Linked DNA regions of Homo sapiens. The protein of the gene in region 1 purifies or fractionates together with the protein of each later gene. This does not show direct contact. Each region holds a gene or a part of one and is shown on either strand. Other genes may lie near its edges.

Region 1 (3,500 bases):
AATATCTGTTGAATAACAGGGCGAAAACCTGCAAACAGACACTCAACACTGCTCTGTGCCAATTCCCTTAACCCTCCTCCCAGAAACCACTTCCCACTCAACCTGAAGGCCCACCTGGGCTCCACTAATCGCCAAAGGCCATCTCTTCTTCTACTTACCAAGAAGTTTTAGATCCCTTAATATTCATTCTGTGTATTTCAAATTCCTCCTGTCTCTCACCTCTCCTCTTACTTGCTGCTGGCATCAGAGGAAGAGGTTTGAGTACCAATCCCAGTCATCCCAGCTCCTGAGGGGGATGGTTAGCTAAACCAGTGATCTCACCTTACCCCTTCTCTCCCTACCTCCTCACCTTCAGCTTAGTGCTTACTTTTGAGACTCTCCTGAACCCTGCTTTACTCTTAGTTTTTTTGTTGTTGTTTGTTTGAGATGGCGTCTCCCTCTGTCGCCCAGGCTGAAGTGCAGGTGTGTGATCTCGGCTCACTGCAACCTCCGCCTCCCGGGTTCAAGCGATTCTCCTGCCTCAGCCTCCCCAGTGGCTGGGATTACAGGCGCGGGCCACCACGCATGGCTAATTTTTGTATTTTTAGTAGAGACAGTGTTTCGCCATGTTGGCCAAGCTGGTCTCGAACTCCTGACCTCAGGTAATCTGCCCACCTCAGCCTCCCAAAGTGCTGGGGCCACAGGCGTGAGCCACTGCACCCAGCCTACTCTTAGTTTTCATCCTATCTTAACCTTTTGTGTTGCATCTTTCTCTAGATCCCAGCACAGGAGGCTTCCTGAAGGCAACCAGTGACATGCTGACAGCCAAACCGAAGTCTTTCCTCTTGCCCCTTCCAAAGGGTTGAAGGATGTGGTTCTCTCCCAAATTGTAAAAATTATCTCCTCCCCTGACTCAGATGATGTCAAAATCACACATCTGTTCACATCACTTTTGAGTTTCCCTTTCCATTTCTTTCGGGATGAATCCTAAATTTGGCCCACAATGCTCCTGCATAGTGTGAGGCTATGGGCCTGTCCAGAAGGCCTTGGCCCGCATGCCCCTCCTGCTCCCTCATCCATTGAGAATGGCCAGTGGGCTGGCCATATGCCTTCCCACCTTGGAGCCTTTGCATAACCTGTTGCCTTTGTAGAGCCCTCTCCCTTCATTGCAGCCTATCCGCACCCTGGAACTAGGCAGGTTCCTGGTCACACTTGCTCTCAGAACCCTATGCTTCTCCTCTATAATAGTCCCAACAACTGGAAACAGGACAACTGTGTAGCGAACTGTTTTATGCCTTCTCCTCCACTCAGAGGGTAGTAGAAGTGTCTTGTTCACCATATGCCTAGAGGAGGGTCTGGCCAAGGGATGCTCAGCAGATGTTTCTGAATGAATGACAGAAGGACAAATGGTTGTCCTACTCCACAGCAATCTCTTTTGCTGACTCTCCCACTGCCCTTAAAATACAAGGATCTCCTTCTGTCCTTTCTCTGTCCTCCTCCTGTCTCACCTCTTCAAAGCCTTTGTTTAGGTTTCTTTTTCCTTTTCTTTCTTTTTTTTTTTTTTGAGACAGAGTCTTGCTCTGTTGCCCAGGCTGGAGTGCAGTGGTGCCATCTCAGCTCACTGCAACTTCCACCTCCCAGGTTCAAGCGATTCTCCTGCCTCGGCCTTCCAAGTAGCTGGGATTACAGGCACCCGCCACCACGTCGGGCTAATTTTTGTATTTTTAGTAGAGATGGGGTTTCACCATGTTAGTCAGGCTGGTTTCAAACTCCTGACCTCAAGTGATCCACCTGCCTTGGCCTCCCAAAGTGCTGGGATTACAGGTGAGAGCCACCACACCCGGCCCAATTTTTGTATTTTTAGTAGAGATGGGGTTTCACCATGTTGGCCAGCTGGTCTCAAATTCCTGACCTCAAGTAATCAGGTCGCCTTGGCCTCCCAAAGTGTTTGGATTACAGACACCCTGCCTGGCCTGGTTAGGTTTCTAAGGAGATGCCCCTCAGGCCTCTGGGTCCTTTCACGCTTATTCTCTCTTCAGGACTCCACACAGCTTTCCCAGCTGCCTGCTGACCTCTCTGTATGTAAGGTGCCCAGGTCCCATCAAACTCACATGTCTAAAAGGAGCAGCTCCCACACTCTGATTGAGCATCTGCCACATGCAGGAGCATAAGTTTGTACCCCTAACCTACTCCAAATGCCATATGAGGTTGATGCTATGATCCCCTGTTTACGGATGAGGGAACAGCCTCAGAGAGATTAATCAACTTGCACCAAGCAGCAGAGCTGAGACTGAAATCCAGGTCTGACTCCAAAGTCTCTCCTATTCCTGTGATGTTGCACTGTCTCCTCTTTCTCAATGTACCCTAAGCTGGTTCTTCCTAGAGACACCCCTAATTCCCAAGGGACCCCTCCATTCCACCATCATGAAAGTGTACAGCTTCAGCCATCTTCACCTTTTCCCTCCTCTAACATCCGGGCACCAAGAACTCATGATTCTGACTTGATGATATCGCTTACATCCTCCCCTTCCTACCATTCCTTCTGCCACTCTTTCATTTGGGACCTTCCTGACTCAGAGCACGGAGTACCGCAGATGCTCTTAATTCATCTCCAGGCTTTCTTTCTCACATCTACTCTTCACACCCCAAACAAACTGACTTCCCAAAGCACTGCGCTCCCTCCCTACTTTGGAGCATGCAATGGCTCTCCGGGAGCTACAGAATAAACTCCGTAGTGTGCTATTCAAGGTCCCCTCCATAACCCATTCCTGCCCACCTCTCCAGCCTCTCATCTGCCTTGAGTTCTATATTTTACCACAGTGGACCCCTTGCCATGGTCCAGACACACCTAGCCTTTCCCTCGTCAACACTTTTTTTTTTTTTTTTGAGATGAAGTCTTGTTCTGTTGCCCAGGCTGGAGTGCAGTGGTGCCATCTCAGCTCACTGCAACCTCTGCCTCCTGGATTCAAGCGATTCTCTTTGCCTCAGCCTCCCAAGTAGCTGAGATTACAGGTGCACACCACCATGCCTGGCTAATTTTTGTATTTTTAGTAGAGACGGGTTTTCACCTTGTAGGCCAGCCTGGTCTTGAACTCCTAACCTCAAGTGATCCGCCGGCCTCAGCCTCCCAAAGTGCGGGGATTACAGGTGTGAGCCACTGTGCTCAGCCTCATCAACACTTTTGTTTAAACTGTTCCTTCTTTCTTTTTCTTTCTTTTTTTTTTTTTTTTTTTGAGTCGGAGTCTCTCTCCGTCACCCAGGCTGGAGTGCAGTGGCACAATCTTGGCTCACTGCAACCTCCGCCTCCCAGGTTCAGGCAATTCTCCTGTCTCAGCCTCCCGAGTAGTTGGGATTACAGGTGCCTGCCACCACGACTGGCTAATTTTTGTATATTTAGTAGAGATGGGGTTTCACCTTGTTGGTCAGCCTGGTCTCGAACTCCTGACCTCAGGTGATCCACCCACCTCGGCCTCCCAAAGTGCTGGGACTACAGGCGTGAGCCACCGCACCTGGCCTAAACT
Region 2 (3,500 bases), on another chromosome or scaffold:
GTCATATAATTTACCCCTCACTACAGGGAACACATCCAGCCACTGAAATGGTTGTACATGTTGACATTTCCACCACATACTTGTACTCTGGGTACTTTTATTTCCTTTAAGAAAAGCAACTATTTCTGAGAGCTGCTTACATTATAAAGTTATATTTAATTTACAAATGAAAATTTTTCTGAAAGTTACAATTCAACATGCTTAAAGCTGCAAAGAGATTTTTAATCAAGTTAAAACAGCTTTCCTATGACTTGAGAGTAGCAAATGTTTAAGCATCATGCAGATGAGCTGGAAAGCGGATAATGTGCCTTTGCATGGCACACGGAAAGCATGCAGGGACCCTGGTTTTTAAAATCAGTGGCTAACAAGTACTTGCAATTTGTTGCCTGTGGCTCAGTTACACCTTTGGCATCTAGAATGGTTATACTGCTTTACATTTAGTAGCTTCCAACATTTCTGAATTATCAAAGTTATAAAAAGCTATCAAAACTAGAGATTCTTATAGATGAAGTAAATCCTCATAAGGGAAGATACTTAGCTACTGAGGCTTGAGCAGATTAAAACATCTGTCATCCTTTAACTCTCTTCCTCTTGCTCAAACACTATTAGCCCTTAGATTCACAAAGTTACAGAAAGTTTGGTGGAAAATATTAAGATATAGCCACCTTGTGATTTTGTACTAAGAATGAATAAATGATTTACTGTAAATGTAGTTTTTGCCTGTAATCCCAGCACTTTGGGAGGCTGAGGTGGATGGACCACCTGAGGTCAGGAGTTTGAGACCAGCCGGACCAATCTGGTGAAACCCCGTCTCTACTAAAAATACAAAAATTAGCAGAGTGTGGTGGCATGCAACTGTAGTCCCAGCTACTCAGGAGGCTGAGACAGGAGAATTGCTTGAACCTGGGAGGTGGAAGTTGCTGTGAGCCAAGATTGCGCCACTTCACTCCAGCCTGGGCGACAGAGCGAGACTCCATCTCAAAAAAAAAAAAAAAAAAAAATGTAGTTTTTGCAACAGTGATATTAGAAATTAAAAATATTTTTGCAGTTTTTGAAGGTCTATTTTGCACTATAAATATAGCCATGTTATAACTTTTTTTTCCTAATCAGGAATCTTGAAAATATAATACTTCCAAATACCACCTAGGGAAGTTTAATGCATCCCTACTAACGAAGCTCCCAGTTGGCCGATTATAGGATAATGTCAACTGGGTGTATTCTAAACTTGAAGTAAATGCTAATATTCTTTTTCCATCACAGATTTTCTAAAATGTAGTAATTTGGGCTTTAGCATCCATAAATCAGAATTTTAGTCTATGTAGCAACCAAATACCAAAATACATATACCTAATCTTAGGCAAGTGCTTTTGTGACTTTTAATCAACTCATTAAATTTTTAAAAAGGAAAAAAGAAGGGATGAAGCTGAAGTTTAAATTTTTAATAAAACAAATAATTTTATCTTGCACTGGGCACCAAGACACAGAAATATTACCATTAGGTTGCAAGATAAACATTTCCCACTTAAAAAATATCATGCACAGCACACAACAACCCCATTTAGTGACATGCCATGCCAGAAATACAGTAAGTTATACAAAGAACAAACAACACGCACAGATTTTTTACTGTGAACCACACAACTTACCCATTCTCACCATAAATCTTTTGAAAGAGTCTAAGAAACCAGAAAACCAAAAATTAAAAAGTCATTTTTCCCAGTCATATTAGTTTCTAAACGTTCAATGTCTTCCACTTAAGAATCTAACTGGAGACGGACAAATCTCAAAAGGTCACTTCTTCCATCACATTCTTGATCATGTCTCAAGTTCTCATCAATTTCCTATCTCAGGAAATTCAGATTAAGCAAAATGAAGAATTTCCTCAATTTACTCTGAGCTAACAAATCCATATGAAAAGGCTTCCCATTGTCAGGAACTGTTAAGTTAGATTTGGATCCTCTAATTTTATTCAACCTAATCAGATTTGTCCATCTCTAAGTTCCACAAACTGAACATTCATCAAAAAGGCAAGTTGCATAATACAAACTATCAAAATGGCCATGATTACATACACATAAAATTCAGCAGACAACAAATACCATTCATGCATTTTAACATCAACGTTTACTCTGAACTTCATAAATAAAAATAAGTTACAAATGATAGTCCAAGAAACCTAGGCCAAAACCAAAAATTAAGTTAAATGAAATTTGCAATGCCATATTTTAAGGGAAAATTTCACCCCCCCAAAAAAATCAGACACTCTAAAATGTGAGCAACACATAAAACCAAACTATAACCAGACTGTTACAAAAATGCCTGAACATGAGAAGTCCAGAAACTTCATATTGGTGGATAGTACCACAGTACTGCTTAAGTCAAAGGCAAGGTTTATGTATATACAGTCTTAAACAGGCCTAAATAAGTTATTTAGAGATATGCAAATATGGAATTGCACTTTTTGTACAAAACGACTGAGGGTTTTTCAAAGCAAATTAAATTTTACGGGATGCTTCAAAATGGCACGCGACATGCAGAGTTGAGCAACACGATGAGCTGCTTTCTCGCATGAGAAAAGTTACACAAGACCATCCATTACAAGCAAAATCCTTGCAGAAACACACTCTGACCTCTCCACCATCAGCCTTTTCTTGTGCCTAAGTCTGCTGGCCTCCCGGATGGCCTCCCATCTCTTCAAGTCAGCCTCACTGCAGGGGCCAGGGGTGAAACTGATGGGAGGCACGGTAGTTCCCAGTTTCCAGGACTGAATCTTACGTGTCAGCATGTCATCTTTCTTCTGCCGATATGAAGGAACTAATATTCTACAGCTATTACTTTTTTCTTTGGATGGGCATGTCCTTTCAAGTACACAGAGAAATTTTGCTTGAATTTCTGGAGGAAGAGTCCAGGGTTCGGGAAAAGGGACTGGGTGGTATCTATCTGGGGCCCCAGACAGCGGCACTTCTTTCTTCTGTGCTGGAATTCGGCGAACAATCATATCATCTTTTTCCAAATCCGGAAGTACAAGTTCACCTTCTCTACACTGTAAAATTATATCTCGCTCTACAGAATCATCTTGCTCAGAGAACTTTCTAAAGTCTTCAAAAGCTCGGAGAACATATGGATTTGCATGGAAAGCCCCAGTCTTTCTGACAAAGAAATCATCATTCTCTAAGTCAGGATCCAGGGCTGCCATCTCGAGGTCATCTCTTCTATAGCCTGGTGCATAAGAGAGATTCTTCCTGCGGGTTATGAGCCTTGGGCCAGAAGTGGGATCAATTTTGGTATGTGTTTCAGAAGACAAGATGTCATCAGAGTATGTTTGGAGGGCCTGAAGCAGTAAAAACTGACTGATGCACAGAGAGGAAAAAGGAAAGAGAATCTTATTAAGCTTAGGGAGAAAAGGTAATTAGCAGATCGACTAGCCAAAGGTGATTAGCAGACCAACTAGCCAGTTACTGAGGGTAAATCATTTTAGAGGACCATTGTGGGGACTCTTG

Evidence for each region. Proteins that work in one complex are often made in the same cells at the same time.
Region 2: the proteins of ECE2 (region 1) and LMO7 purify together in Homo sapiens (affinity purification with mass spectrometry; one large-scale study listed by BioGRID and IntAct). This does not show direct contact.

What each region holds. Positions count from the first base shown.
Region 1 is NC_000003.12:184,279,022-184,282,521, reverse strand, and holds part of ECE2 (endothelin-converting enzyme 2), read right to left. Parts: intron 1-3,500. UniProt on the Homo sapiens protein: Converts big endothelin-1 to endothelin-1. Also involved in the processing of various neuroendocrine peptides, including neurotensin, angiotensin I, substance P, proenkephalin-derived peptides, and prodynorphin-derived peptides.
Region 2 is NC_000013.11:75,807,330-75,810,829, reverse strand, and holds part of LMO7 (LIM domain only protein 7), read right to left. Parts: intron 3,351-3,500; coding exon 2,631-3,350; intron 1,677-2,630; coding exon 1,647-1,676; intron 1-1,646.